Homo sapiens: one gene and its partners. The protein of the gene in region 5 purifies or fractionates together with the protein of the main gene of each other region. This does not show direct contact. Each region holds a gene or a part of one and is shown on either strand. Other genes may lie near its edges.

The links.
Region 1: the proteins of FAM3B (region 5) and GNPTAB purify together in Homo sapiens (affinity purification with mass spectrometry; one large-scale study listed by BioGRID and IntAct). This does not show direct contact.
Region 2: the proteins of FAM3B (region 5) and MTX2 purify together in Homo sapiens (affinity purification with mass spectrometry; one large-scale study listed by BioGRID and IntAct). This does not show direct contact.
Region 3: the proteins of FAM3B (region 5) and TM9SF4 purify together in Homo sapiens (affinity purification with mass spectrometry; 2 studies listed by BioGRID and IntAct, with this or other methods). This does not show direct contact.
Region 4: the proteins of FAM3B (region 5) and ZNG1A purify together in Homo sapiens (affinity purification with mass spectrometry; one large-scale study listed by BioGRID and IntAct). This does not show direct contact.

What each region holds. Positions count from the first base shown.
Region 1 is NC_000012.12:101,761,442-101,767,061, forward strand, and holds part of GNPTAB (N-acetylglucosamine-1-phosphotransferase subunits alpha/beta precursor), read right to left. Parts: intron 4,854-5,620; coding exon 4,650-4,853; intron 3,864-4,649; coding exon 2,761-3,863; intron 323-2,760; coding exon 123-322; intron 1-122. UniProt on the Homo sapiens protein: Catalyzes the formation of mannose 6-phosphate (M6P) markers on high mannose type oligosaccharides in the Golgi apparatus.
Region 2 is NC_000002.12:176,274,526-176,280,884, forward strand, and holds part of MTX2 (metaxin-2), read left to right. Parts: intron 1-6,359. UniProt on the Homo sapiens protein: Involved in transport of proteins into the mitochondrion.
Region 3 is NC_000020.11:32,156,939-32,163,297, forward strand, and holds part of TM9SF4 (transmembrane 9 superfamily member 4 isoform 1 precursor), read left to right. Parts: intron 1-855; coding exon 856-1,031; intron 1,032-1,512; coding exon 1,513-1,576; intron 1,577-3,053; coding exon 3,054-3,173; intron 3,174-4,337; coding exon 4,338-4,427; intron 4,428-6,359. UniProt on the Homo sapiens protein: Associates with proteins harboring glycine-rich transmembrane domains and ensures their efficient localization to the cell surface.
Region 4 is NC_000009.12:150,069-156,427, forward strand, and holds part of ZNG1A (zinc-regulated GTPase metalloprotein activator 1A), read right to left. Parts: intron 4,728-6,359; coding exon 4,641-4,727; intron 2,011-4,640; coding exon 1,966-2,010; intron 1,360-1,965; exon of another isoform or gene 1,237-1,359; intron 658-1,236; coding exon of another isoform or gene 639-657; exon of another isoform or gene 1-638. UniProt on the Homo sapiens protein: Zinc chaperone that directly transfers zinc cofactor to target metalloproteins, thereby activating them.
Region 5 is NC_000021.9:41,339,339-41,345,697, reverse strand, and holds part of FAM3B (protein FAM3B isoform a precursor), read right to left. Parts: intron 1,223-6,359; coding exon 1,164-1,222; intron 13-1,163; coding exon 1-12. UniProt on the Homo sapiens protein: Induces apoptosis of alpha and beta cells in a dose- and time-dependent manner.

The DNA of each region.
Region 1 (5,620 bases), on a different chromosome or scaffold from region 5:
AATACCTTTAACATATTAGTCATCAAATATTAGAGCTATAAATTTAGCATGGTAAATATGCACATTTCAAGTAGCCTTAGTTCTGAACACAAGCAAACAACTCAAACACGAGCAAGACTTACATATCTTGCAGTTCTTGCATAACAATCCGGTCAATCATGTGAGGCATGTGAGCAGGGACTTTCCGCGATGTGAATCCAAACTTGCTATTTAGAATTTTATTTACATATCTGAGGGAATCTGCAAATGTATCTTTTAGTTGCCTCCCAGTATTTTTGCTATCAGTGAAGTATGCCAATTGTGTCTTCAATGACTCTTCTTCCTGAAAAGAGAATTCTACATGTAACTCAGCATTATGTTTAGTGCACAAGTGTACTTTGTTACAAGACATTTTATATAATGTGGTAATAACTAGTCACGAACTCTTCATTAGGAGCAAATGAAATACATGTTAACGGGTCACTTTAAGGATCTAAACTGGACTTAGCAGGACTCAACTGGATTTCAGTGCAAGTATCACCAATGTTGGTTTGAGAACAACAGCTGTACGATGGAGATCTACATAACAACAGTCACATATGGAGGGTATTCTTCAAGGACTGGTCACTGACTGTGAGATGTCAAAGCTAATTCAATGCAACATTTAGAAAATTTATGTACATATACATTTGATAGTACTTTCAATATCAAGCTATTTCTGCAGGTGATATCAAATGTGCAAGTCCTTGAGTTTTAAGCGCAAGGACTAGAAACAAATTTGGTTTCATCTTATAATAGTTTTAATATTATAAAATCAAAACCAGTCAGTGGCAGAACTAAATAGGCAAAGAAAATTGGCAAAGCATTCAAACACTTTACAGAAATATTTTTGCTTCTCAAACTGATAAAAATAAAAATGTAAGGAGACTGATATTAACTGGTGTTGGTTAGACTGCAGTGAAACAAGCACTGTTGTATACTGTTTGTGGAAATATGAAGTGGTGCAACATTTCAGAAAGACATATTTAAAGTTTATACCTGCTAAGCTAGTAATTCTACCTGCAGAACTAAAACTCACTGAAATGTAAGATATATGTACAAGAGAATTCACTGCAACACTATTTGTAATCACAAAACATTGGAAATAACTAACCTGCAGCCATTAAAAAGAATAATGGCACTGGCATGGGTATAAATAAATAAATAAATAATGGCATTTGCCCACATCCTACTACATCAAAAGGCAACTGCAGGGAAATATATGTAAATTTACACTATACATATATTTCTCTATATATAACTATACATACATATAGGTATGTTTGCATAGCTATAGAAAAATACTGGAAGAATACCCATCAAACTATTAACAGCAATTATCTCCGGGAAGGAGACTGAAGAAGGAAGAACTTTCCTTTATTTACTGTATATTTTTGAATTGTTTGCAATTTTTACTACTAGCCTATAATGCTTTTGTAAATTTAAAAAAAAAAAAAAAAAAAAAGGAAAGAGGCCAGAGGCCAGGCACAGTGGCTCACGCCTGTAATCCCAGCACTTTGGGAGGCCGAGGCGGGCGGATCACCTTAAGTCAGGAGTTCGAGACCAGCCTGGCTAACATGGTGAAACCCCGTCTCCACTAAAAATACAAAAAATTGGCCAGGCATGCTGGCACATGCCTGTAATCCCAGCCACTCAGGAGGCTGAGACAGGAGAATCTCTTGAACCTGGGAGGCAAAGACTGCAGTGAGCCGAGATCACGCCATTGCACTCCAGCTTGGGAAAAAGAGCGAAACTCCATCTCAAAAAAAAAAAAAAAAGAAAGGAAAGGAAAGAAAATGGGGGAAACTGAGGAAATAAACATAGTCAAGAACACTGCAGTCCTTCACTAGACAATCTGTAAATGCCTCATGTGCAAGGCACAAGATACTTCCTAAAATGCTGAGGACATAGTTCCTCCTTCACTCTCTTTTCTCCCAGCCTAACACCCACTCGTGGCTGTGTGCCTTCACTATTCAGCCCAGACTGTATGATTTTTTTTTTTGGTCTGTCAACTCCCACCCCTTCGAAGGTCAGTCCACAGGGCACTTCCTTCTGTATGCCTTCCCTAGTACTTCTAGGCAGAGCTAAGGAGTCCTCCCTCTGAACTTCTTGCCCATATCTCAACACAGACACATCTCTTTGCTACAGTTTTCTCCCCACAAATTTGTCTTCTCTACTGGTCCCTGAGTTTCCACATGAGCAGTGGCTATGTTCCCGTCATCTTGCATTCCCCAGTGGTTAGCACCGTGAGAGCACTGAGGAGAGGTACAGATGACACCACAGCACAGTGAAGCCATGGTACAGGGCAACGAGCAGTCCAACTTTGAGGCTTGGCTCACACTGATTTGCTGTTATAATGTTGGGGAAGCGAATGAACTTAATTGAACTTCAGGGTTTTTCATCAGTAAAGCTGGAAAAATACCATATCTGAAATGTCAAGACAAGACAACATGCCACTTCCCACTCTCCTTCCTCCAAGTACGCCCCTGGCTAAATCCCTTACTCATTCACACTTGGGCTGTTTCCTAAACTACAAAATGGGGACAGCAATAATAAATACCTTCATATGACATTTTTTATTATTAGGGTTATTGGGTAAATTAAATGAAACCATGTAAGAAAAGCATTTAGTTCCATGGCCGGCACAGGGAAGTGCTGAATAAATGGTAGCTATAATGATATTATCATGAGATTATTTACTCTTCCTGAGCATGAGAAAGAATGAGGCTGGATGTTACTTACGTCGAGAAGATCTTGGAAATACTTTTTTTTCTCCCATGGCAAAAAGCCCAAGTAACTATCTGTGTAATGCTGCAGCTTTCTTCCAAGTAACACTTCAGTAACGCCTATGTGATTTTCAGCATTTTCCTCCATTCTACTGTTCTCTTTTTCTTTCCCTGTGATTTTCTTTTCTTTTGTCATCTGGCTTTCCAGTGGAACAATCAGAGATGGGGGCTTTTCTTTTGTCACATTTCCGCCTATGGTTTTTTGGGTGTGAGTTTCCACTCTAAATCTTGCTGTGGTCTCCAAGTCCAGGGGTGGATTCTGACCCTGGTCATGACCATTCACTTTTACACTCACTGCAGGAAAAGTCAACCTCTGCAATCTTTCAGACACTCCTAAGCTGTTTGGCAAGATGCTTTTATGAACCTGTTTTTCCTGTGGAGCCACCAAACTGTCATTTGTTTCATCTGTTATTATAGCTTGATTTTTTATTTTAGCATGCTGTGAGTTCATCAGAAATGATCTCAGCAAGGCTGACTTGGACAAATTGTATCCTTTCAAAGTGATGTCTCCATGTTCCAGTTGCAAATCCAAGGTATTGAGACTCAACTGGGCGTCTTTTGGAAGGAGTGAAATATTTACCAGGGGAATTTTCACCTCTTCCTGGGCTCTCCTTGTTGAGTTAACATCATGTCTCTTAAACTTCGGGAAGCGTTTTTCTTTGGGAATATCCTCAAAAAGGATTTCCGCCTCTGGAAGAAGTGTTATGGGACTAACTAAATTTTCGTAACCCTTCTGGGCTGTAGAATTCAGTTTTGGTCCCTCCCTTGTGTCCACCTCCACTGTTATCTGCATTTTGAACTCTTCATCGTTTGTATTTTGAAACGTGAGATTAAAATGTATTGTGGTGGCATTCATTCCACTGTGCATTATGAGGTGGATGGTTTTCCACTTGTTGGCAATAGAAGCATGTCGAATTATTGGATTGTCACTATAGGCACCTTCAACTCCTCTTTTGGCTACTTCTGCAAAGCTGAAATAAGGCAGGCATTCACCTTTTGGAATAATATAGTGAGTCTGGTTTGGGAGAAGGATCACTTTATACAATTCATGAAAATGATCTAGAGGAAAAAACAGAAACATGATTTTTTTTTTAACTGGGCATTTTTCCTCTGTTTTCCTTTAATTCTTTGAGTCTGAGTTTTCACTTTCTTTTAAAAAAAATAATAGGGAATGCATCATGAATTTGCATGTCGTCCTTGTGCAGGGGCCATGCTAATGCCTAAACTGTTCTAATTTTAGTATATGTGCTGCTGAAGTAGGCACTGAGTTTTCACTTTCTAAGAGTGACTTTAATTTCAAAATAATCAGATATCCTAATACAACAGTTACTGGTATAGGGCTTATTTCACTATCTGAGGCAGTCACAATAATTACCATGAAATAGTGATCCTGACTCACTATAGAGATATGGCATGGTTCTTAACAATAAATTACAATAATCAATTTCCATCTTTTTATCCATTTGAAAAAAACTTTCTGCCAAAACAAACTCCATTAATACGCTATCAACAAAATCCAGTGTTTGAACCATCTTTATTTAATGAATTATTGATATCCTTTTTTGTTTCCAAATTAAAACTTCACCACATATTTTCAGCTAAGGTAAATCTGCTTGGTCCAAACAAAACAAAACAAAACAAAACACCAGACTGCAACAATAACAGGAAAAGATCCTCTTCAGTGATTTATGTTGTTCTCTTACTTTCATAACTAGTTTGAATGCAAGGCTGGTAAAGGGATACACAGAGAATCATTATTTTAAATAACAAAAGCCATTCAAAACTCTCTCTACCTGTCAAGGATGTTTTATGCTCCCATTCTTATTTGTTTGGCAGTAAACATACCTTGCCCACAGTCGCCAGCATCAAACCCACAGGACAAGACATTGCATGCTTGGTCACAGAACTTATCAGCGAGCCAGGAATTCGCACATCCCTGATTACAGTAAGAGACACTGTTTATTCCTCCACCAAACTGCCAGGGCTGTCCAACTCCAATACTCCCAGTACCTCCACCTCCTGCAATATAGCGACTCCCTCCACTGTTTCCTGTAGATCGGAGGAAGAAGAGGGATTCTTGCTGTAATTACAATTTTGAAAGACAGTTCTGGACTGGGTGTGGTGGCTGACGCCTGTAATCTCAACACTTTGGGAGGCAGAGGAGGCTGGATCACCTGAGGTCAGGAGTTTGAGACCAGCCTGGCCAACATGGTAAAACCCCATCTCTGCTAAAAACACAAAAATTAGCTGGGCGTGGTGGTGGGCGCCTGTAATCCCAACTACTTGGGAGGCTGAGGCAGGAGAATTGCTTGAACCCGGGAGGCGGAGGTTGCACTGAGCCAAGATTACACCACTGCACTCCAGCCTGGGCAACAAGAGTGAAACTCCGTCTCAAAAAACAAAAAACGAAAAAGACAGTTCCTTATTTCATATTGATGTTTTCAAGGTTGATGTGTAAGTTTTAGTCAGAAAAGGTTCACCTCATTCTTTAGTAGAAGATCTCATATACCTTAAGAAGAAAATAAACGTAAAAGGGAGTCACTTGACAGAAGCGTGATGAACAGGCCCTGGCATTTTGTAGCTGTGCAACCTACAAGTACAGGGCTTACATTTGCTCAAGGGGCACGTGCTGACAGAAATGGAGGAGCACGAAAACAAGAAGAGATTATTCCAAAGACTGTGACTATCAGAACTGCCAAAAACATGTCCAAACGTGGGTAACATGTTTGATACCCCTTGTTATCAAATGCTAATGTTCCAGTAGAGACTGACTTCTCTGGTCTACACAGATCTACTTTGCACATCTGTATTCTCTC
Region 2 (6,359 bases), on a different chromosome or scaffold from region 5:
CAGGATATCTATTTCTCTCTCGAGCCACACACACACATGCATGTATGTGCATACACAAACACATGGCAAAGAATTGGCTCTTAATGTGGAGGCTGGCAAAGTAAGTGCAAAGCATGCAAGGCGGGCAGTCAGGAGCCGGGGGAGATCCAGGACTAAGCACTGGCAAGACCAGGTACTACCTGGAGTGTCTGATCCCAGGGAGGACTTAGACCCTTTTTTAAAGGGCTTTCAACTGATAAAATCAGGCCACTTAGGATACTCTCCCTTTTGATTAATGTAAAGCTAACTAAGTAGGGACTTTAATTATATCAGCAGAATCTCTTTATGGCAGCACCTAGATTAGGGTTAGAAAAGCTAGGAGGAAGTGTGTGTCTGCTACAAAATGACGTTGCCTCTCTTCTCTTCCCAACACCTGGCGGAGAATATCCCTTGTAGCCCACTTTAGAGACATAGTAGAAAGGGAATTTTGGCAAGTGTATTCAGTGTAGGTAAGCTGATGTGTCCCAAAGCCATCACACGTGTGTGTGATTTTTGTCTGTTGTAAGCAGTGCTTACGTAAACATATTTATGCATCTGTTCAGTAGTTTTTTGGAATATATTTTTTAAAGTGGAAGATAATTTTGAACTGTTCTTTTAGCTTAATATGGAAAGAAATGGTAAGTTATGCTTTTGAATGAATAGTTGTTTCTCTAGATGATGATGTGCTGGATTTAGAATTTTTTTTTTTTTTGAGGTGGCATTTTACTCTTGTCACCCAGGCTGGAGGGCAGTGGCACAACCTTGGCTCACTGCAACCTCCACCTCCCAGGTTCAAGTTATTCTCCTGCCTCAGCCTCTTGAGTAGCTGGGATTACAGGTGTCTGCCCCCATGCCCAGCTAATTTTTATATTTTTAGTAGAGATGGGATTTCACCATGTTGGCCAGGCTTGTCTTGAACTGCTGGCCTCAAGTGTTCTGCCTGCCTTAGCCTCCCAAAGTGCTGAGATTACAGGTGTGAGCCACTGTGCCCGGCCTAGAATTTTAAAAGGATAAAAATAGACCTGGATATTATTAAAAATAGTTTAAAAATATTTTATAACCTGTATATTTGTTTTCACTTTTTTTAATGGAGAGATTTTTCAATACATTACTCACATTTTGTTTTTTTAATTTTGTTCTTCCAGTCAGTTGGTTATGAATATATCATAGGGGAGGGTTGTGTAATCCCATTTGGGCTACATGACGGCATTTGGAGCAGCCAAAAGGGTAGAGTACTTGGGTGGACAGGCCTAACTCACTTGCCCATCCCTGTGCCAGGAGTGGCTCCAGGTATTAGGGCTCCACAGTGCCACCAGATACACAAAAGAAGGGAGAGAGGTGTTGAGCACTAAACAGCAGAAATTGGCTGCAGTGTTGATTGCTTCCTTCACGTTGCTTTTACACTTTCTATGGATTTTGAAGTGAAAGGTCTAACCTGGGTTCTTATTCAGCTACTTCCTAGCTGTGTGAACTTGGGCAAATTAACTGCCTTTTTAAGCCTGAGATTTCTCATTTGTAAAATGGTGAAAATAATAATGTGTTACTTTAAAGATACAATTTTGGTAAAGCTTTAAAAATTTATTTGTAAATAACAGATAATTTAATTCAATAATATGAAGTATCTACATACAGTTATTGCAGTTATTAAAATTACTTAGTAATGTATCCTAGAATAATTTGTTATTCCAGGATGTTTATTTCAAGATATATACATTTGATATGCTCCAGCCATGTTTATTTTCATTATAAAATTGAATCTTGGTATAGGTCATATTGGCGGTCTGTTAATTAGAATTGCCATAGCTGGTTATTGATAATAAGAGTAAGCTTTTGAGCTACTGTGTTAAATGATTTATATACGTAATTGCTAATAATAACAATTTGGTCTTGTTAGGTATTTTGTGGATAAGAATACTGAAACTCAGTATAAAGGTTAGGAACAAGGTCATTGGAGTAAGAGCTGGAGTAAGCTCAACCCTGCTTCTTGTTGGCAGGCCTTTCTAGTCCTCAGTTTCCTCATTTGTAAAAGGGGATAATATATTTATAATGTATGTCAAGTATCTAGTATAGGGTGGTAGATAATAAATGTTCAGTACATGTTAGTTTCTATTGTTACTTTTATTGCCCAAGAGCCTTTCACCTTATAGTAAGGGGTCCTTTGAGGATATTAACTCTTAACATGTAGTATCCCATTACCATTTTGGACAGCAGAAAATGCCCAAAGTATTCTTACTTTTCTTTACTCATATACCATCTTTTCTGATTTATTACTCCACCGGTGCCTTGCCATATTTTAAGCACATCAGTTAGTTTCATCATACTATAATTTATTAATCTTTTGAAATAAGAACAATATCTGTTCTGTTCTTTATTTAGAAGCTCAGTAAACTATATAAAGGATGAAAAAAGAATGGTCGGAATATTCCATTTATCTCGTTGTGGGCATTTGGGTGCTTAATTATTTAAATTTATTAATAACTTCATTTAAGCAGTAGCATTAATTTATAGTATGAGCTAGGAAAGTAGTTTTGCAGCGTTCCATGGAACCCATATGTACGCATCTTGAAAGTGTGATTAAAACAGGTATGTTTTTAAAAATTTGTTTTTATATTGGTAATAAAGTGTTTTCATTCCATCCCTCCTCACATGAGTACTGGGGAATCTGGACTTGAAAAGCATTCAGAAGAGTTCCAGAGGCTAAAGGAAGTAGAAAATAAAGGTTTAAAGGCTTTTGTAATATAGAAGTGATGCTATTGCTCACAATGAAGAAAATGATGGTAAAGGCTTGTATATCCATGTATCAGAATATTTAATGATGACAGTTGCAACAGATAATTGAAGAAATACAATGCATTAAATTCATTTTTCTCTTTTTTGAGATGGAGTTGCGCTCTTGTTGCCCAGGCTGGAGTGCAGTGGTACAATCTTGGCTCACTGCAACCTCCGCCTCCTGGGTTCAAGTGATTCTCCTGCCTCAGACTCCTGAGTAGCTGGGATTACAGGCATGTGCCACCACACCTGGCTAATTTTGTATTTTTAGTAGAGACCGGGTTTCTCCACATTGTTCAGGCTGGTCTCGAACTCCCGACCTCAGGTGATCTGCCCACCCCGGCCTCCCAAAGTGCTGGGATTACAGGCGTGAGCCACCGTGCCCAGCCTTTAATCTTTTGCTCTTGAAAATAAAGATATTTTGTTATTTTTACTCAGTATTCTGAGGATTTTCCAGTATTGAGGAAGGCACTGAGGAATTATTAAAAAGTTATTGGACCGACCGTCACGTTTAAGAGAATTAAAAAAAAAACATATTAGTCATATGAATAATCTTACACAGTTGTGCTTATGACCTTGAAGATACGAAGCTGAGATTGAATGGTGCAGATGGTAAAGCAAAATAGTGACAAAATAGGTTATACTTCAGACTAGAGGCAAGATATAGTTTATTGACAGCAGTGGATCCTGTATTTTATTATACTGTATTGCTGAATAGGTTGAAACTGGTTTTTTTTTTTTTTTTTTTTTTTTTTTGAGATGGAGTCTTGCTCTGTTGCCCAGGCTGGAGTGCAGTGGGGTGATCTCAGCTCACTGCAACCTCTGCCTCCCAGGTTCAAGTGATTCTCCTGCCTCAGCCTCCCAAGTAGCTGGGATTATAGGTGCCCACCACCACACCTGGCTAATTTTTGTATTTTCAGTAAAGACGGGGTTTTACCATGTTGGCCAGGCTGGTCTTGAACTGCTGACCTTATGTGATCTGCCCGCCTCAGCCTCCCAAAGTGCTGGGATTATAGGTGTGAGCCACTGCACCTGGCCAAAACTAAATTCTTAACAGCAATATTATGTAAATTTTTGAAAACTTTGATAATAAGATCCCTTCAGAGGCTTGTTTTCTGCTAATGAAATAGTTCATAGGCTGTAATATGAGTTTTAATTTACTTAATGTGGTTTATTAACATTTTATACTCTGAAATTACATGATTTTTAGTTTTTAACTTAAAAGATTTTGGTGATGGGTGCCCCATAAAATTTGTCAGTCTTATTTCTTTGAAGACTTTTGAGTTATTAACGTTAGCCCAAGCTTGCCATATTTTGGTGAAAATTGAAAGAAAACGCCACCAAACTTTTTAATATTTTTCAAACATTTTTGAAGTTTCTTGATAAGCAGTTATCAGATGGACTGAAGATATCAAATAGAGATGAGATATTGAAAATTCAGGCTTCTCATTTTTTTTTCAAAGACAGAAGTTATAATATTCAGTAAATCCAGCTATAGACATTCATATATAGAAGTATTTGCCTTGCCAGTAAAAGGGATGCATGCTTTAATTTTTTATTGCTTTGTAAATGATCCTCTCCTCTATTCTTGAACACTTTTCTTATTTTTGTACGCTCTATAAATGAATTATGGTTTTGAACTTTTTTACATCAGTAATAAAAATGAAATTTGATTGGTTGGTAATAAAGAAGGTTCTTTTCATAAAAGCAATCATTTTGTCATGACAATTCTCGTTAACTGTAACTGTGTTGGCAAAATAGAAACCATAAAATGCATTTCACTGTTTTTATACACTTAGCTATGTTTTTTTGCTGATCATATATTTTATCTCTAAGAACTTGTATAAGCCAAAGAATTTCTTCATAACTTGATCTGTCTTTAGATGGAAAAAAATAGACTTTTGATGTGTATATTTATTACAGTGGATACAGTATCTTTGAGTATTACAATGGTATTTACCCCCACATCATATTTTATTACCTGGTCAATTTAGAGCACTAATCAGAACTTTATATGAATAAATTGTGTCATTTGTATAACATGAAGAGGCCATTATTATTCCAGTGTTTATTTCTGTAAAGTAATATTGGCAGCTGACTCAATGAACTAGCCTTCTTTTGACCTCCATTTCTTTTGATTGTTAGCTTTTATGTTATAGAAAAATGTTTTGGCATTATGAATTATAAGTAATGTTTCTTTCTTATTTTATAAATTTAAAAAAAGATTATGTCTTTATGAGAAATACCATAAAAATAAAAGTTGCTATCTAGTTTTTTGTTAGATGCTATCATTGTTATTTTTACTATTACTGTTATTACTGTTCATCGATTTAAGATTCTAAGTTGGCTAGTCCAGGAGAACTAGTTACATAATGTTAACTATTTAAGTGATAATTGACATTTGTTCTTACATTGAGATTGTGAATTATTTTTGATGTATTTTCTCCCTAAACAGTTTTCTCCTTTTTGCCATCTACGTGCACTGATTTTCTCATACTAGCATTTGGTGGCTGTTTGGAGAATATAAAATAATTTTAATATTAAAATAAATATTTAGAAACGGTGCTAATGTGTGAGAAATTACAGAGTGCAGATTATAGACAAATATAAACTATGCTTTCATTATTTACTGTTTTAGATTATCTTTGTATCATAGGTAAATGACTATTGGTTTGACTTTTATGAAAAGATATAGTTAGATTTGACTTTAGCTAGAGTTGTTTCTCTCTTGGATTCTCTTTTGTTTCCTCAATCTGTGAATAATGTAGCAACTGCCATTTAGGTCAGTTTTTAAAGATGGATGTAAGCCATTCTAGTCACTGGGTACCAAATCCTGGGGACTAGAGGCCAGGGAGTCAGGGTGATGTGGTCAGCAAATTGGAGATATAGTGAGATTTCAGGAAGGCAAAGATTCAAGATATTGGATTAATAAAGTGAAACTGTAGGGAAAGTGCAAGTGTCAAAATCTATGTCTGAAGCAGTAAAGGGAATTTATAAACGTAATATGGTCAGGAGTCAGCTTGGTAACCGATTTAGATAAACGGAATTCTGAGGCTTCAGATGAGTCAACATTTTGTGTGATTAATAGTAACTATCAAAAGTCTTAACTGGCAAGTTACTTTTGCAGTGTAACAAACCACCCTAAATTTACAGGTGTAAAACAGCCACTTTCTTATGTTTATGAATCCTGTGGGTCAGTAATCCACACAGGGCACATGTTGTGAGTGGCACAAGGTGAGATATAACCATATCCACACACATTTGTGTCTTTCCACAAGGTCAGACTTCTGTTGGTGCTTATTCAGTCATAAAAGCAATAAGCAACATCGAGTTCCTTAAGGAGGCAATTCTCCTTAGTACTACCTGTTCACTCAGTAGTCAGAGCTGTGGCACATAGACTAAGCCAATCCACAAGTCAGTCAATGTTGCAAACCGCACGTAGCAGTATACTTAATATATAAATGTTATAGATTAAAATTTCCACATCACACAGTAACATTTAACATCAAGAGAAAAGGGGACAGGAAAAGAGGTAATGAACCAGTCTAAGGAGAGCGTCATGGACAAGGATA
Region 3 (6,359 bases), on a different chromosome or scaffold from region 5:
TTTCTTTTTTTTTTTTTTTGAGACGAAGTCTCACTCTCTCACTCTGTCACCCAGGCTGGAGTGGAGTGGCAAGGTCTCAGTTCACTGCAACCTCCACCTCCCAGGTTCAAATGATTCTCCTGCCTCAGCCTCCCAAGTAACTGGGATTACAGGTGCCCCCCACAGTGCCCGGCTAATTTTTTTTTTGTAATTTTAGTAGAGACTGGGTTTTACCATGTTGGCCAGGCTGATCTTGAACTCCTGACCTCAAGTGATCTGCCCACCTCAGCCTCCCAAACTGCTGGTATTACAGGCATGAGCCACTGCTCCCGGCCTTCCTGAACATTTTCTGTTTGCAGTTGATTAAATCCACAGATGCAGAACCCATGGATACAGAGGACCGACTATGTTGTGTTTTTATTAAAATGGAATCCTTCTATACACATAGTTTATAGCCTCCTTTTTACACTTAATAGTATATCATGTAGTTTTATTCTGACAAGATTGGGAGCACTTTGTACAGTGTTGTTTTTTCCCTTCTTTTCTTCACATAATGTGCCACATGTAATCTCTTCATTTTGACCTCTTCATCTCTTCACGTTCTCAGTCCACTCCTTCCTGTTCCTCCCCTACTTCCTCCCTGGATGGTGAGCTCCTCTGGGATGCTGAGGTGCCTTCTTCACTGGGAGTCCAGATCAGGGCTGGGGTCAGCCTCAAGAGATTCTGGCCAGGAGCCCTGTGGTGGGGGCAGGGAGTGTGCTTCTGCTGCACAAGTCGCCTCTCCTTCTGTGGAGCCCAGAAGGTCCCCTCCCCCTTGCGCAGCCCCCATCCCGGGCATCAGGGCCTCGTGGGGGCCTCATGGTGCCATGTCTACAGGTGCCCTTTCCCACCATGGTGGCTCTGCTGTGCATGTGGTTCGGGATCTCCCTGCCCCTCGTCTACTTGGGCTACTACTTCGGCTTCCGAAAGCAGCCATATGACAACCCTGTGCGCACCAACCAGATTCCCCGGCAGATCCCCGAGCAGCGGTGGTACATGAACCGATTTGTGGGGTGAGTCCTCCAGCAGAGGCAAGAGCAGGGGAACGTGGAAGAGGGTACGCCCCCCTCCGCCACCAGAAGGGTGCGGCAACCAGAGTTCCTGCCGCTTCAGCCGGCTCTAATAGAGTTTATGAAAGCTTAACTTCACTCCAAGATCAAGGTGACCAGGTTGTAGGCAGACTTGGTGTCATCCTAGGAACCAGGACAAGGAAGGGGAAGGATGGAAGGGTATAGTGAGACAGGTTAAGACCATCACTTGGACCTTGGGCAAGTCACCCCACCTCTCTGCACCCCAGTTGCCCATCTATAAAATGAGGAGAATAATGCCCACCCTGCCTACCTCTCAAGAGATTATAATAGTACAGAAATATGCCAGAAGAATTAGCACCACCACACTCGTGTAGGTGCTCTCTCTTCATGCCAGCTTGGGAAGGAGCTTGGGGCTTCCTGGTGGCCTGGTCTCTAACAATGTCAACCTCTCGTTCTGTGGCAGCATCCTCATGGCTGGGATCTTGCCCTTCGGCGCCATGTTCATCGAGCTCTTCTTCATCTTCAGTGTGAGTACTGGTGCCTCCCCCACCCCTCCACCCATGCTAGCCGGGTCACTCCCACTCCACTCGGGTGCTCTGCTGCCTACTGCCTGAGAAAGTTCAGATGGGCCACTTCACCTCTCGGAGCCCCATTCTTCACCCTGAAATTGGACAACAGCCTTCCCTCTCAGGGCAGCATTGAAAGTGAAATGAGGCTGGGCGCGGTGGCTCACACCTGTAATTTCAGCACTTTGGGAGGCCGAGGTGGGTGGATCACAAGGTCAGGAGTTCGAGACCAGCCTGTCCAATATGGTGAAACCCTGTCTCTACTAGAAAATACAAAAATTAGCCGGGCATGGTGGCACACGCCTGTAGTCCCAGCTACATGGGAGGCTGAGGCAGGAGAATCACTTGAACCTGGGAGGTGGAGGTTGCAGTGAGCCAAGATCGCGCCACTGCACTCCAGCCTGGGTGACAGAGAGAGACTCCATCTAAAAAAAAAAAAAAAAATTTAAATGAGATATGTGGTGTGTGGGGAGCCTGGTGTGTGGAAAGGGGGACTTGGTAAATAGAAGCTGCCTCAGTGATACTTCAGTCATTCCCCACCATGACTAATAGCATCGTTGCACCTGGTTTCATTTCTGGGTCCTTGCACATCTTTACCTCTCTGTGTTACTCACAGCTCCTGGGAGGGTGGACAGAATGATTCCTGCTTGTCAGGGTCATTGTGAAGTTGGAATAAGTCATTGTAAAAATGCTTGACTTCAGGAAATGCTGTTGTAATGGTGATGATGACTCCTCCCAAAGAGTGCCAAGATGAAAGTTGGTAGGAAGGCCCTTCAGAGGCATGTAAGTGTGGCTGACCCAGCTCGGGGCCCAGCACAGATGGTACCTTGTACCAAGTCAGTACCGGACATGTATCTGCTATTCCAGAGTAGTGGCCCAGCCCCTCCCTGCTGAGACCACCTCACCCACACAGGTTTGCCTGGGAGAAGGGTCAGAGGAGGTGTTGGCTGCCCATGGTACCAAAGCCCATGTGCACTTCCCAGGGAAGCCCCCTCTGTTTCATCTGTGTGACTCTGGGCCAGTCACCAGCGTCTCTGATCCTTGACTTTCTTAGCTCTACCAGGCCAAGCTTTCATAGACACACACATGTAGCAATTGTATATGAGGCATGTGGCATAAGGCCTAGCGCTTGGTAAGCTGCTCAAGTGGTGGTGGCTGCTCTATAATTTTGATTTGGATAAGAATCATTATTTTCTACAAGCTGCTGAGTTCAGGCTGGGGTCTACCCAGAGCAGGTCAGTCAACCCCTGGCCCCTCCCTAAGGACAGTGTGGCTCACCCCCTGCTCTGGGGAAGAGGGGCCAGAGCCACATGCCAGGCCCACGGGCCCTGATGGTGTCATGATGATGTGTCCACTCCTGCCCTTGTGACAGGTTGGTGTGCCAGGGGAAGGGGAGCAGGGTGGTCAAGCCAGCTGAAGCCCCACTGTGTGTCCACAGGCTATCTGGGAGAATCAGTTCTATTACCTCTTTGGCTTCCTGTTCCTTGTTTTCATCATCCTGGTGGTATCCTGTTCACAAATCAGCATCGTCATGGTGTACTTCCAGCTGTGTGCAGAGGTGAGGAGAGCAGGGCCAGGAGGCGGGGGAGGGAGAACTGGATCCAGCATTGAACGGGTTGATGAGGCTCTGCGGAGAGGCTGGGTCTGGGCTCTTCATGTGGCCCCTGCTTCTGGCTCTGAGCTCTTGGGCCAGTACGTTGCTGTGCCTCTCCCAGCCTCCATGTATTCAGCTGTACCCTGGGCCTAATGAGATACCTTCCAGCTTAGTTGTGTGGGGTACTCACCACAGCTAGATGAAAGGACAGTAGATTTGCCAGTGCCAAGTCCACTCCAGTAGTAGTTTCTTCAACAGGCTGATGCACACTGGGTGGCCTGCCCTCCCTCTGGGAACTGGCCATTGGCAGAGTGGGTGAAGCCAGGGTTTGGGATGAACAGTCCCTCTGGGCTGGGACCCTGGCTCCTCCATGAGTAGCTCTGGGTCTTGGGCGGGTTGCTTAACTTCATGCCATCCGTTCCTCCTCCACATGATGGGGTGAGTGAGAGGACCTAACTTGGAGGGCTGCTCTCAGGATTAAATGAGTGGATTCATCTATAGCACTTAGAGTGGTGTTTGCCAGCCAGGCACGGTAGCTCACGCCTGTAATCCCAGCATTTTGAGAGGCTGAGGCGGGCAGATCACAAGGTCAGAAGATCGAGACCATCCTGGCTAACATGGTGAAACCCCATCGCTACTAAAAATACAAAAAGTTAGCCGGGTGTGGTGGCACGTGCCTGTAGTCCCAGCTACTTGGGAGGCCGAGGCAGGAGAATCACTTGAACCCAGGAGGCGGAGGTTGCAGTGAGCCGAGATCGCACCACTGCACTCCATCCTGGGCGACAGAGTGAGACTCCATCTCAAAAAAAAAAAAAAAAAAAAAAAAAAAAGAATAGTGCCTGCCACATGCTAAGCATTTGCTCGAGAAATGTTAATTATTTTTTTGTTGTTGATTTTTTTTTTAATGAGGTATAAACTGTAAAGTTCACCCTTCTTTGTCCACAGTTCTGTGGTTTTTAGAAATGCATACAGTTCTGGAACCACCATCACAGTCAAGCTGTGAAACATTTCCATCACCCCATATGTTACTGCTCTTACCAGAGTCTTCAGCCCCTCAAGCAACTGTGAAATTGGTAGGAAGGGGTTCTGCCCCAGGACAACACTGACCTTCCTCTGTTTCCTCCTCAGGATTACCGCTGGTGGTGGAGAAATTTCCTAGTCTCCGGGGGCTCTGCATTCTACGTCCTGGTTTATGCCATCTTTTATTTCGTTAACAAGGTACTGCCCTCCTTGAGGAGGTCCTCTTAGTCCTCATAGGGTAGGAAGGTCAGGAGGAGGATGCTGGGAGAAAAACCCAAGTGCCTGAATCTTCCTTTTCCACCCAGAATGGGGAGGACCAAAGCCACCTAGAACTGTTCCTGCTCTAGAAGATGGATCTTTTTAGGAAAGAAAGAATCTGTATTCTGTATGTTTGGGAGACAAAGGCCATCAGGATACGTGACAATGTGAATAATGCTTGTAAAACTTACGAGGTATAGCCATAGCCAAAGCAGGACTTGAAAGCAATATGTCACCTGCAGTGCTCTTCACAGGAAATAAGAGGGACTAATAACACCTTGAGAAAAAGGAAAAGATAAGAGTAACATGAAAGAAGAAAAGTAGAAAGGAGTTAATAAAGATAAAAGCACAAAATGCTGAAATAGTCTAAATAGTAGAACCCAAATTTAGGGCTGCAGGTATCCTGTCTCTGCAGGTGTTCTCTTCTTCACGCAAGTACTGTTCAATCCTGCAGAGTAAGGAGAGGATGGGAAAGTTTTTCACAGGCACCTCGGAGCCCTCCTAACTCTGTGACCCCACATAGGTAAAGTGTGGCCCAATAATAAGAGGGAGCCAGGCTTACCTGACTAGGGCAACTCACAGAGCTCATTGTCCCGAGAGAGAGACGTGGGCAAGAATACAGATGTCCCCACGACAGTTTTACTAGATTCATTCATGATACACAAACCAGATGAGCCATTGAGAGGAATTTGGAGGAGCCCTGTTGGGCCCCTCACCTCCAAAACTAATACTCAAGACTTACTCTGACCTGCTGTACTTTGGGTCTCCAGAGCCCAGAAGCAAGCAGTCCTCTGTGGCAGTCAGGCGTATTTGCAAAATAGAGTTGTAGGTCAGTTGATCGAAGCTGGGAATGCCGTTTCCCAAAAACAGTCAAGTTGGAAAAGACTGGAAGGATCATTTAGTGTAGTGCTGTACCCCTACCTCCAGTCTGGTGACTGTGCCCCTCTTCTCTAACAGTCTCAACAGATGATTCTCTAGCTCAGGGGTCAGCAAACTGCAGCCCGCGTGGGCCAGCAGGCCTGTTTCTATAAATTTTTATTGGAACACAGCCATGGTCATTCATTAACATATCTGTCCATGGCTGCTTTCACACTACAATGGCAGAGTTGAGTAGTTGCGACAGGGACCATATGGCCTGCAGAAACTAAAATATTTACAATCTGGCCCTCTAAGTAAAAGATTGCAGACCCCTGCTCTACTACATCCAGCAACAGAGAAGACACTCCCTCCTAACATTCCCATTCTTTCTGGACAGCTCCTGTCATTATCAAGGTCTTGATTCACACTGCAGTCTCCCTTGCTGTGACTTCCATCTTTAGACCTTAGTCTTAATTCTGGGATCATCTAGAACAAATCTAATCTCCCTCCTCTATAGCCCATATTAATCATAACTCTCATAAGTGGCAAGTGACTAAAACTCTATCAAAGTAGCTTAAGCAAAAAAAAAGGGAAAAAAAGTAGCTTAAGCAAAAAGAATGTATTTGCTTATATAACTGGAAAGACTAAGAAATTGGAGTTCTAGCCTCAACCATGCTTAGATCCAGAGTCTCAAAAATATCAGGGCTCAATCCCAGCACTTCGGGAGGCCGAGGAGGGTGGATCACAGGGTCAAGAGATCGAGTCCATCCTGGCCAACATGGTGAAACCCTGTCTCTACTGAGATACAAAAAATTAGCCGGGCGTGGTGGTGCACGTCTGTAGTCCCAGCTACTCAGGAGGCTGAGGCAAGGGAATCGCTTGAACCCTGGAGGCAGAGGTTGCAGTGAGCCAAGATCGTGCCACTGCACTCTAGCCTGGGTGACAGAGCAAGACTCCATCTCAAAAAAAAAAAAAAAAAAAAAAAATATATATATATATATATATATATATATG
Region 4 (6,359 bases), on a different chromosome or scaffold from region 5:
AAACTTCTATAAGAGTGACTTTGACTATTTTGTTAACCAAATCTCCGGTTTTGTTTTTTTTTTTTTTTTTTTTTTTGAGACAGAGTCTCGCTCTGTCACCCAGGCTGGAGTGCAGTGGTGCGATCTCAGCTCACTGCAAGCTCCGCCTCCCGGGTTCACGCCATTCTCCTGCCTCAGCCTCCTGAGTAGCTGGGACTACAGGCGCCCACCACCAGGCTCAGCTAATTTTTTGTATTTTCAGTAGAGACGGGGTTTCACAGTGTTAGCCAGGATGGTCTCCATCTCCTGACCTCGTGATCCACCCACCTTGGCCTCCCAAAGTGCTGGGATTACAGGCGTGAGCCACCGCGCCCAGCCCAAATCTCCAGTTTCTAAACTGGTAAGCTCAAGTTGCTATGCCTCAAGGAATTTGAGAGAATATTTAATGTAAGATTCAGGACCCAATAGTAAGAATTGTACTCAGGACATCTGATCTTCATTGAAAAGGATTCTAATGCAACTTCAGTCCTCATAGCAAGGAAGTACTATTTCAGAAAGTCCCTAGATTCTCAGATGCACTGGCAAGCACCATACACTGAATAATTCACAGAAGATTTTAGTCACTTGCTCACTCATCCACTTGAAGTAAGAAAAATCAATCACTGCATGTTTATTGTTCTATAATAAAGCAAATGTTAGAAATAAAAGTTAGAAATGTCAAACACACTAAATTGTTACATAATAAACTAATCAAGACACAACTTTTATTCAGGACATGGATATTTCTGAAATGAAAACAAAAGAAGAGAATTGACTTAAAATGTTTATAAATACGAATATTATGACAGAACCAAAGCTATTTATGAGCATTATTTTTAAAAGCTTGTTTAAGTATTATGCACTTGTCTGTGTGACATTTTGTAAAGCGGAGAAAAATTAAGGAGAAAGGAATTGTAGAACACTAACAGGAAGAGGACAGATACTGAGGAATGGCTCATAGTATAAGTGAGATTATCAGAGACTTTCTACAATGGAATTTGAAATGCAGGGAGCACATTTGGTGTATGGTTGTAGAGGACTTACACTAAGGGCATTCTTCTGCTACCTCTGCCAGCAGATGAGTGGCTCCTGAGAATGCATACCAAATTAATTCCCCAGCTGTTCACATGCATATAAGCAGCTGCTGCTGTTACTGCCTAACACTTATGGCAGTCTGGCAGCACCTCTAATCTCTGCCATAGCAGACAAGCCACTCACCTAAGGCCTCTGCTGTACTTCCAAAGAAAGAATTTCTCCAGTAGAGACTGAGTGGAACTAGACTGCCAGCTGTGAGCCTCAGAGCTCCTGGCTGCCTGTTGCTGAGTCTATTAGCTGCTGAGCCTTTCTCACCAAAAAAAAAAAAAAAAAAAAAAAAATGAGCTTAATAAAATAACCCTGCACAGAAATTTTCTGAAATTAAGATAACATTCAATGGAAAACAGAATTTAATCTACAGAAATACACTTCACAGATGTTTTAGGAACAGAACCTAGAGAAAATGAAAGTCAAAATTTAATAAAAGAATTTGTCAGGAACTTCAAGGTAAAGACTCCATGTATTTTTTGGCAACTATAAAACACTAAGAAGGCTTTTTAAATATTAAAAAGCCATTTAAACACTTCAAATTAAGATTCCTCAATATACTTCAGATTTCTGTACTGAGTTACCCTCTCGAGTGTTTGGAAGTCTTTTCTTCCTCATTAAGCAAACACTTACACAGTGTTATCATGGCTTTGTATTCTTAGTTTTGAAGACAGGCAAATGTACTAGCCAAATATGCCAAACTAACTTATTAAGAGCATTCCAAACAACATTTTGGATCCAATTCTTTTTAAATGCACTTAGATCTTTCTTATATTAGAATCAAGCATATTTGTCAATTATTTAATGTTTATTATTAATAACTAAAATGATTTGTTATTAATAGGAATAGCTTTTTTAAAGTACCTTGATCTTTGTGTTTCTAAGATTTGTCCTAGTCCATTTATGGATCTGAAATAAATAATAAATGAGGAAGACAAAGTTTAAAAGTAAAAATTAACTTTTTAAAAAAGTATACAAAGTATATTGTTTCTAAAACAGGAAATAAGCATACCCAAATACATCTGGAACCAGAAAAAAATTAAAAACAGAAAAACAAAACTTGCTTTAAAAAATAATTGTGATTTTCCTTCAAACAATAAATCACATATATTCCACTCATACATTAATAAAACATATATGCAAAAATTCGCACAACTGTCAGATTAAGGGCTACTTTGTGGTTAATAAAAAGACACTTCACTTTAGAAAAAATCATTCATAAATAGTCAGTTATCCTAGTGTTCTTAAAAATGAGTAGATACTCAAAATTTTTACGGTGGTCACTTTTTTCCTCAGGCATACATGGTAGAAATGGCTATATACACACTAAAAATAAAAACCTAGTTGCAAGTTGCTTTGCCCCCAGCCTGTCCTTAGTATTCACAGTAATTCTAAGTCACACATCCCAGGTTCCTTTATAGAATAACCTCGTCAGTTACCTAATTAGGCTCTCTACCCGTTATGCCTGTTCTCCCTCTTTTGATACTATAGAATATGGCTTCGTATGGCACCAAAAAGTACCTGTTAAATTCTTTTCAACACACTGTACACCTCATCTATTTATCTTTTCCATTGCCTATCATCAATCATCAATTCTCTATCATGAATTCAATTGTCTTTAGGGTTACTTACCCAAGATTCTTGCTACTTGTTCAAGTTTGTTCTCATGGGTAAGGCTTCCCACATATAATGATTCTGAGGCAAGTCTCTCCACTATTTTACAAAATTCTTAAATCTTCTTTTTTGAATACACTCTAGTCTGATGGCTAATTCCTCTCAAACATGTTTACCTTTTTTCACCTCCCCAAATATCATTCTGAGTCAGTCACAAGTCTGATATAAAGGGAGGGTAAAAGCCAAAAGGGTGTGTAATTTATCAAATTGCTTCTTCCAAATTCATTTCTAGTACTGTTAACAAGCTGGCTAATAGTCAATATTGTCAGTGTCAGAGATTTAGCTTAGGTCTCTATAAGGATATAAAAGTCAAGTAATAATTATCATTCCTTTTATGCCAAAAACATTTGCTAAATAGATTGTGTTCTTCTTAGCAATCACAATGGTGCACAAGATTTATGAAGAGAAACAAGATTAGAAGACCAGTGTCAAAAAATGTAAAAGCAATCTTCATTCATCACTTTCTCCTTTTCAAAATCAGCCATCTTTTTCTTTCTTCCCTTTTTTACTATACCTTGAACTTACTATGTAAGCTAAGAAAAAAATTACATAATAATAGCTAACAGAGCACTTACTATGTGTCAGCACTGTGCAAAGTTTACCAACATTGTCTCATGTAATACTCAAAGCAAACTTATGATAGGCATTATGCCTTTTACAGAGGAGGCTTTAAAAGGGTAAATAAGCTCCCTAAGAAGACAATGAGAAACAGACCAAGGATTAGAACCCAAGCAGATTCCAAGGTCTGTGATCTTCAACACTACGCAACAATACCTACCCTCCACGTGGAGACATTATATTTTTTTATAGTAAAGTTTAAGGACATTACTATTAAAATAAGATGAAATATGTGGAAAAAATATGAATTTCTTTCTTCCACAATCATTAATCATGGCAAATAATCTCCTAATGAGCCTTACCTTTATTGATTCAATTGATAATATATACTATATGAACTGAGATGACAGATTCAAAATCTAATGTCAGTAGAACTTATAAATACTAAGAATAGTAATTTTGAGCCATCACGCTCAAAGCATTGTACACATTAAAGATAACCAATACTAATAGCTACCGAATGTCTCTCTGTATAGGGCTTTTATTAGTTCAGGTCTTACAAAATAATTCAAAACAAAGCCCCTGAACTATAACCTCATTTGAAAAGCCCATCTTTGTTTTCAAAAGGAATGGGAGTCTCCAGAACAGTCAGCAAAATGACTGTTAGCACATATTTGAGCATCATTCATATTGTCCTGATTGTCCTATGCTGATCAGCCTTGGCTATGGACAAAGAAGATATTAAAGCAAGCTGGAAGACAAGGCATGGTTGACAGTTAAGGAAGATGAAGTCAACAAGAGTTCAGGGAAAACTGAGACCACTTGAGTCAGGGAAGACTTCACATAGGAAGGGGGGAGAGACAGAATAGGCTCTATAGAATAAATTAAAAAAAAAAAAAGCAGAACAAGAAAGAACTCAGGGATTGGCAGAGTGAGAATACATTACGAGTAAAGACAGGAACTGACAGGATGCATCCATGGGAAAGTGAATTAACCATCCTGGGTAAAGTTAGGGAAGACTGACATTAGGAAAGAGTCAAAGAGAAGACAGGAAAAGAAAGATGGAGTGCGAAGACCCTGAATATCAGTCTATTAACTGTGAACTATATTCTGCAAGCACTGGGGACTAATTTTATGTATTACCATTTATATAACAATTAGCCATCAACAATATATGTGATTCCCTAACGTTCTTGAAGCAGCTCAACCTTATACCTTAAGTTTCTACAGGGCAACAATCAGAGTAAAAAATATTCTGTGTATACAACATGGATCTGTAGGCACTTAACACACTTATCATTTCGTACCTAATTGTCGTTCTTAATTTCTTTACATCTTCTTCTGGAACCAGGTCTGTTTTATTAATGAGAATGGCATCTGCCAAAGCAACTTGTCTAAAATAGCAAACAGAGAAATGTTAAGAAACTTTAAATAATATACACGCATGCAGATTAATACATCAAAAGAGGAATGTTAACAAATCAAAAATAAATAAAAACGCCTCATGTAGATCAATATATCAGTTAAGAATTATCTAGTGCTCTATAGGAGTGACTCAGTTTACTCCTAATCCGCTAATTTTTCAATGTGGATGAATTGTGTTCATTACTATGCAAGTTCAGATTTCACATTACCCATTCGCAAAGTATTTACTAAGTTCTGTTACTTGCTACTCTTGTGCTACAAAGATAAGTCTCAAAAAGTTTACAATCAAAAGGATGATTTTAAACTCATAATTTTCTTTGTGAAGAAAAGCATAAAATTCAGATATCCAATATGGTAAAAAGAAGAAGAGTTTACCTACTAAAATACTGTAATATTTACCAAAATTTTCAAAGAAATAGAATAACTTCACTTAATACTAAAAACTGTATTAAACAGGTTTTTTAAAACTATACTTCAGAGCTGGGCATGGTAGAGCACACCTGTAGTCCTGGCTACTTAGGAGGCTGAGGAGGGAGGATCCCTTAAGCCCAGGAGTTCAAGTCCAACCTGGGCAACATAGCAAGACTCCATTTCTTAAAAAAAAATAAGCTATACTTCAGAAGATATATCAGGATATTGCCCAAATGTCTTCTTTATCACTATAAATATACTGTATATTATCTCTGTAAAGAATCCAGTTGACTGAATGCTAGATAACAAAGTAGATGATAATAATCAGAAGCTCTATTTTCTATTAGCAGGATAGTAAAACTGGAAATTCTTTCAATTTTCCTCAATTATTCAGGGTCTTATGCTTTATCTCAAAGAATACAACTAAATTCTCAAAACTAAATTCACTTTAGTTCACTGAAAGAGCAGGTTTCAACAGTATGTACATCACAAATCCAATTTGGCTATTTTCTATTTGGCTTATTTATATTTTCTATAATAACCATATTTTCATAAGGAAAACAGTTACAAAAATACTTAAGTTCAGCCAGGCACAGTGGATTCATGCCTGTAATCCCAGCACTTTGGGAGGCCGAGGCGGGTGGATCGAGCTGGTCTCAGGAGCTCGAGACCAGCCTGGCCAACATGGTGAAACCCCATCTCTACTAAAAAAAATAAAAATAAAAATAAAAAAATAAAAAAAAAATGCAAAAATTAGCTGGGCATGGTGGCGGGTGCCTGTAATCCCAGCTACTTGGGAGGCTGAGGCAGGAGAATCGCTTGAACCTGGGAGGCGGAGGTTGCAGTGAGCCTGCACTTCAGCCTGGGTGACAGTGAGATTCTGTCTCAAAAAATAATAATTATTATTATTATTATACATATATATATATATATAAAATCTTCAATCCCAAAGAAATTGTATAACAAGAAAATATTTTTAAATGTTAATATTTCCCGAGTTCCTCAAAATTACAGAACTCCTGTGTTCAGCATTCACTTTATGCTACGACAAAAATGACTTTAAGTAAAAGTTTAGTTATCAGATCATTATAAATAGATAGCAATAATTCAACTAAGGGAAAAAAAGAAAATAAATTTTCCTTGACTATGTTTTAAAATTTCTTAGTTTGTTTTTGGTTTTCATCTTAGTG
Region 5 (6,359 bases):
TCCCAGTTACATCTGAAAATAAAAGAAATGGTATTTTAAAAGAAAGTTCACAGAACTAGGGCGCACTTGTGGCACCAGGGCCTGGGGAAGGAAATATTTCTTCCCTGTCTATCTCCAGCAAACACCACTGATGTAATGACCCAGCCTGCAGAGACAGGGCGGGCCCCTTGAGGAGAGTCCCCAAAACCAGGTCAAAGGAAAGTGCTGGAAGCTGTGCTAGAACTTTCTTCCAGTTTGCTTTGGGTTACACCTGATGGAACACTAATACCTCCCCCACCCAACTCATCTCACAGAAACACCAGAGACCCCTCACTCAGGCCCACCCGCCTCATCCCACAGAAACACCAGAGCCCCCTCAGCCAGGCCCACCCGCCTCATCCCACAGAAACACCAGAGCCCCCTCAGCCAGGCCCACCCGCCTCATCCCACAGAAACACCAGAGCCCCCTCAGCCAGGCCCACCCGCCTCTTCCCACAGAAACACCAGAGCCCCCTCAGCCAGGCCCACCCGCCTCATCCCACAGAAACACCAGAGCCCCCTCAGCCTGCCCACTTCCTACTTTACAGCCTCCTTCAGGGCTGTCAGATTGGGAGCATTTTATCTTCACTTCCACAGCCCTCACGTCTCGGGGCTATGCGGCCCACTCACTCACAGGGACGTTGTGGGAAACCCTTTCCTTCTCCTCTGGGCCCCTCAAAGGCAACTGTGAGAGAGCTTTATTCCAGACCTAAGAGAAAGGCCAAGTTTTGTTTCCCACGAGGTTGCAGTGGCTTTTATCACACAGAAGGATGAGATGGTCTATGGTGTCAGCCCCTGAGCAGACACTGGGACTCTGGGAGCAAATGAGAGGCTCAGTCCAGGACCACAGGCTGCACCCCCTTGGCGGCCCTTCTGGTGTTAACCCTAACTTTGGCCTATCCCTCTGTTTTTTTCTTTTTTTAAAATAAAGTCTATATTTGGTTTTCAGTTGTTTATTTGTTGTTAGAACCACAAATAATCTGTGAAGTGAGACTTGTAAAAATAATTGAGTATATAATCTTAAAATGCATTAAAATACAAACCTAGACTAAATCACGCGCAAAAGTCTCGAAAACCCAAGGTACCTTTGAAAATCTGACCAGAGAGCTTTTAGAGAAGTTTAAAGAAAATGTTTAGTAACTTACAGTTGACAATGGCAATGTTTATTCCTCTGGCAACATTTCCCAGCTGTTCTCCCATAAGTCTGAAATGGAGCTAAGCATTAGTCAAGTACCAAGAGGCGTGCGACTCTCCCCGCTCCGCGAAGTCTTCGCCTGACCAAATGTCAGTCTCATCTGCTGTCCCCCACCTTTTCCTTGAAAGTCTGCATTCGCCTTGGTGCAGCTCCCGAGACCGCCACCCCCATGTTCATCCACACACATCTATTCTCAGTGTCTACAGACTCAGTCCCTCAGGGGACCTGGACTCTCAGGGGACCTGGACACTGCATTCAATCTTATAATTTAGACAAATGGCTAGGGGGAAGAAAAACTAACATTTATTTAGCTCAGGCTCTTCACAGATGCACTTTATTGTTAATTTATTATCTATTTATTTATTGAGACAGGGTCTCACTCTGTCACCCAGGCTGGAGTGCAGTTGTGCAATCGTGGCTCACTGCAACCTCTGCCTCTCGGGCTCAAGCAATCCTTCCATCTCAGCCTCCCAAGTAGCTGGAAGTACAAGCGTGCACCACTACAACAGGCTAATTTTAAAAATTTTTTTGTAGAGACGGAGTTTTGCCATACTGCTCAGGGCGGTCTTGAACTCTTGGGCTCCAGTGATCTGCCCGCCTCAGCCTCCCAAAGTGCTGGGATTATAGACATGAGCCACCATGCCTGAGTATGTCACTTAATTTTTAACCTTTAAATTGTAGAATATGAAATGCCAAATTCAAGAGGATTGTGCCCTAAAATCAGGAAAACTAAATGACTTACCTGGAGATGGTAATTATTGCTGAAGATCACAGAAATTGTGTGTGTGCATGTTGTATATGTGCATGTTCCCATTGTCAAGTGTCAGAATCAATGACATGTTAGCTTTATGAAAATAATTTGGAAGGCTTCCTCCTTTTTCCATGCTTTGGAATAGCGAACACGGAACTTTAATATTTTGTTTTGACACCTTTACCTAAACTCCCCTATGAGTTTTCTAGGCTTAGTGCTTTTTGACAGGTTTAGAGACTATTCCATAATAACTTGAAGCAGAAAGAGATTTCTGATAATAGAAAATCGGCTAATCTAAACCGACTTTCTCATGGAGAAAAGCAGAAAACATGAGGCAAGTTTTGTTGTTGCTGTTGTTGTTAAAGATCTGGTTGTATACGTTAGAGACCAAATAAGGTAGTTAAGAATTTCCCAGGCCAAGATCTGGGAGAAGACTAAATTTCAGGTTGGTAAGTCCAGCGTTTAAAAGCTACTTTTAACCAAGGAGAATTTGCTGATTCCAGAAAAGGTGTGTAAGGAAGTGAACAGCCCTTCTGACAACCATGTGAGCCAAGGGAACAGAAGTTGGAAGCCAGGGTCAGGGCCATGTTAAATCTCCCACATCTTATTTGGCCTGGGGTCACAAAGGGTTGAATCCTGAAAGTGAGAGCAAACCAGAAAAAAATCAGAGCTTGTATAAACTTCAGCCTAGTTTTTAGTCAACTAGGTGGCCCAGAAAATCTTTAACACTTATTCAGGTCATCCTGTTCTGCTAAAGGTTCCAGGTCCCTGGGAGAAGCAAAGATAATTCCTCAGAAGAAGATATCATCCCATGCCTCAATTTTTTTAAAAAACAGGTGCAGGATCAAATGAAACCTGACACGTGAGGAAAAAGGCCAACGCACACAAGAGACAATGGAACCAGCAGAAAACAGTAGATAATAGTGACAGACTCACAGGCACTCTAAATGCTAGAGTTATCCAACTCAGACTTTAACTATAATGTATTCAAAAACATGGTTGATAAAATTAAAAATTTCAGAACTGAAAAGTACCAAAACTGACATGCTGATTTTAAAAAGAACCAGAATGAATTTCTAAAACTAAGATAATATAGTAACCTAAAATCAGTAGTGATTGAATGGGTTTGACAGCAGATTAGGTACAGTGGGTGAGAGAATTAGTGAATGGAAAACAACTCTGTCCATGATAAAGAGCAGAGAGGTAAACAAATGGAAAATACAAAATAGACTATAGGCTCTAGAGACTATAGTAGTGATAAGGTCTAATATATGTTTCATTAAGAATCTCAGAAGAAGAGGAGAAAGTGAATGGGCAGAAGATACAAGAGCAGAGAATTTGTTAAATTTGATGAAAGACTTCAATACCTACCAATTTAAGAAACTCAAAAAAACTCCAAAGAAGATAAAACAACAAAAGACACATTGGAGTACAAATGTTGAAAACCAGACAAGGAATCTCTAAGGTGACGGGGACGAGGGCAATGGGCAGTTACTTTCACAGCAGCGACAATAAGACTGTCAGCTGACTTCTCAAAAGGAAAATATAGAACCTAGAAGACAGTGGAATAGTACCTTGAATGTGCTGAAAGAAAGTAATGGCTAACACAGCCTACAAAAGTATTTTTCAGGAACAAAGATGAAATAAAGATATTTCAGAGAAACGTAAACTGGAAAGATTCACTATCAGCAGACCACACTATTTTTCAGGTATGAAGGTGAAGTAAAGATATTTCAGAGAAACATAAACTGGAAGAATTCACCATCAGCAGAACATGCAGGAGGGTTTGCTCTGTGTCTTTTGCTGTAAGAAAACTTACCTATAAGTGTAACCTGTTATTGGGTCTTAGGAATTTTTCTAGAGTATCACTGAATTTGAGGCTAGTTGTGAGAATCCTTCTTCAAAAAAACACTCAACAAAAATGTATGTGCATGTGCACCAAGAGACATAAACAGCACTGTTCATAATAACCCCAAACTGGGAATGACTCAAATGTCATTCAACAATAGAATGGATAACTGTAACATATTCATGCAATGCAGTATCATACAGCAATGAACATCTAAGAACAACAGCTACATCCAACGTGAAGGATAAATCTCAGACACAAAAGAGTATTTGGTTTATGATTCCACTTATACAAAGTCCAAAACAGACAACATTAAACAAGTGTTGAATTAAATAACAGTATTTTGCAATGCATGCTTAGGCAGTAAAACTACCAAGAAAAGTGAGGAAATAAATCACCACCAAAAAAAATCCAGGTTACCATTGGGCAGGAAGGAAAGAGGAAGCTGCATTTCAGAAGGGGTACACAGAGGGCTTATGGGGTGCTAGTGATAGTCTATTTCTTAGCCAGGATGGTGGTTACACAACTGCTCGCCTTATCATAATTTATTACAAAATGATATATTCATAAGGTTATTTATTGCAGCATTACTGGTAATACCAAAAGATATCAAACATCAGAAATGCCTATCAGTGCAGAACTAGTTGAATAAACTATGACACATCCGTGCTATGGAATACCACATATCAATAAAAGAAATGAGGAAAAGCCTGATGTACTGATATGGAGTAATCTCTATTAACTGTTAAGTGAAGAAAGCCAAGGTCATAACTGTGTATAGAGTTTACCACCTTTTATGTAAGAAAGGATATAAATGTGTGTGTACATATGAGTGTATACGTGTATAATGTGTATATACACATATGCACACATATTCATACACACATATACATATATTCACATGTATACATGCATATATATACCTGTATATAAAAATATACATAGGTATGTATTAATTTTATATATATATATAGCTTATTTTTTGCCATTAAGAAATACTGGAAGAATAAATCAAAAACTAATTAAAAAATTAATGGAGATGGGAACAAGAGGTGGGGAGAAAAGGTGGAGAATACAGGGAAGATTTCTCTGAGCCTCCTTTTTTGGGACATGTAATATTCAAACATAATGTTGATTTCTGAACCAAATAAATATATATTCAAAAATTAAATGAAACCCAAAGAAAAACAAACCTAGCATTGAAAGCAAATGGAAATTAATTCAATGTAAAATAACTACAGGGAAAGTAATTATTTCATATGACTTTGGTCATTGCTATGAGTTGAATGTTTGTTACCTCTCAAACTCATGTGGAAATAGCATTAAGAGGTGGGACATTTAGGAGGTGATTAGGCCATGAGGACTCTGCCCTCCTGAATGGATTAATGCTGTTATCACAGGAGTGAATGGGTTCCTTATAAAAGGACAACTTTGGCTGGGTGTGGTGGCTCATGCCTGTAATCCCAGCACTTTGGGAGCCTGAGGCAGGCAGATCATGAGGTCAAGAGATCGAGACCATCCTGGCCAACATGGTGAAACCCTGTCTCTACTAAAAATACAAAAATTAGCTGGGCATGGTGGTGTGCGCCTGTAGCCTCAGCTACTCAGGAGGCTGAGGCAGGAGAAGCGCTTGAACCTGGAAGGCGGAGGTTGCAGTGAGCCGAGATGGCGCCACTGCACTCCAGCCTGGTGACAGAGTGAGACTCTGTCTCAAAAAAAAAAAAAAAAAAAAGACAACTTCAGTCCCCTTTTGCCTCTCTCTCTCTTTCTGCTGGAACTGGGACACCCTTCTACTTCTCCTACCTTGAACATGAGAACTTCAGGCTCCCCCGCCTTTAGACTCCAAGACTGATACCAGCAGACCTCCCATCTCCTATTGATTCTCAAACTGAGAATTACACCATCTGCCTCTCTGGTTCTGAGGCTTTAGTACTTGGGCTCAGCCATGTTACCAGCATCTCAAGGTCTCCAGCTTGCAGATGGCCTGTCGTGGGACCTCTTGGCCTCCATAATTGCATGAGCCAATTTCTCTAATAAATAAATCCACTCTTTCCTTTCTCTTCTTACCTCCCACTGCCATTGGCTCTGTCTCTCTGGAGAGCCTTGATTAATATAGACATCTGACTCTTTATAACCTTAATAAAATATTTTTAAATCTATGAGGAACTGCAAACAACATTTTTTAACTTCACTCAGTAGTTGTATTGTTAGTAGTCTTGGTATTGTAATTTGAAGGCGAAGGTTAATAGTACTAGGAACCAAGATTCTCAGTGTAAGGGAAGAGTTAAAATGTAAAATCGAAGAACTTAAGGGGGTAAGACTCCTGCACTGTTGAATTTGAATTGTAAATGCTAACGTAAATTCATGATTTAGAAACAAATGCATTGCTTGGTTCTGTCCACTAAAAGTGCTTAGGAGGAACCCTATCAAGGGCCCATGAGTGTCTAGATCTTGGTTTCTAAATACCACATCCCATTAAGGAACTCTCTCTTTAGAGAAATGGCTGATTTCAGTCTGAACAAAGAAAGACTCGGCTGAGTTTAGCT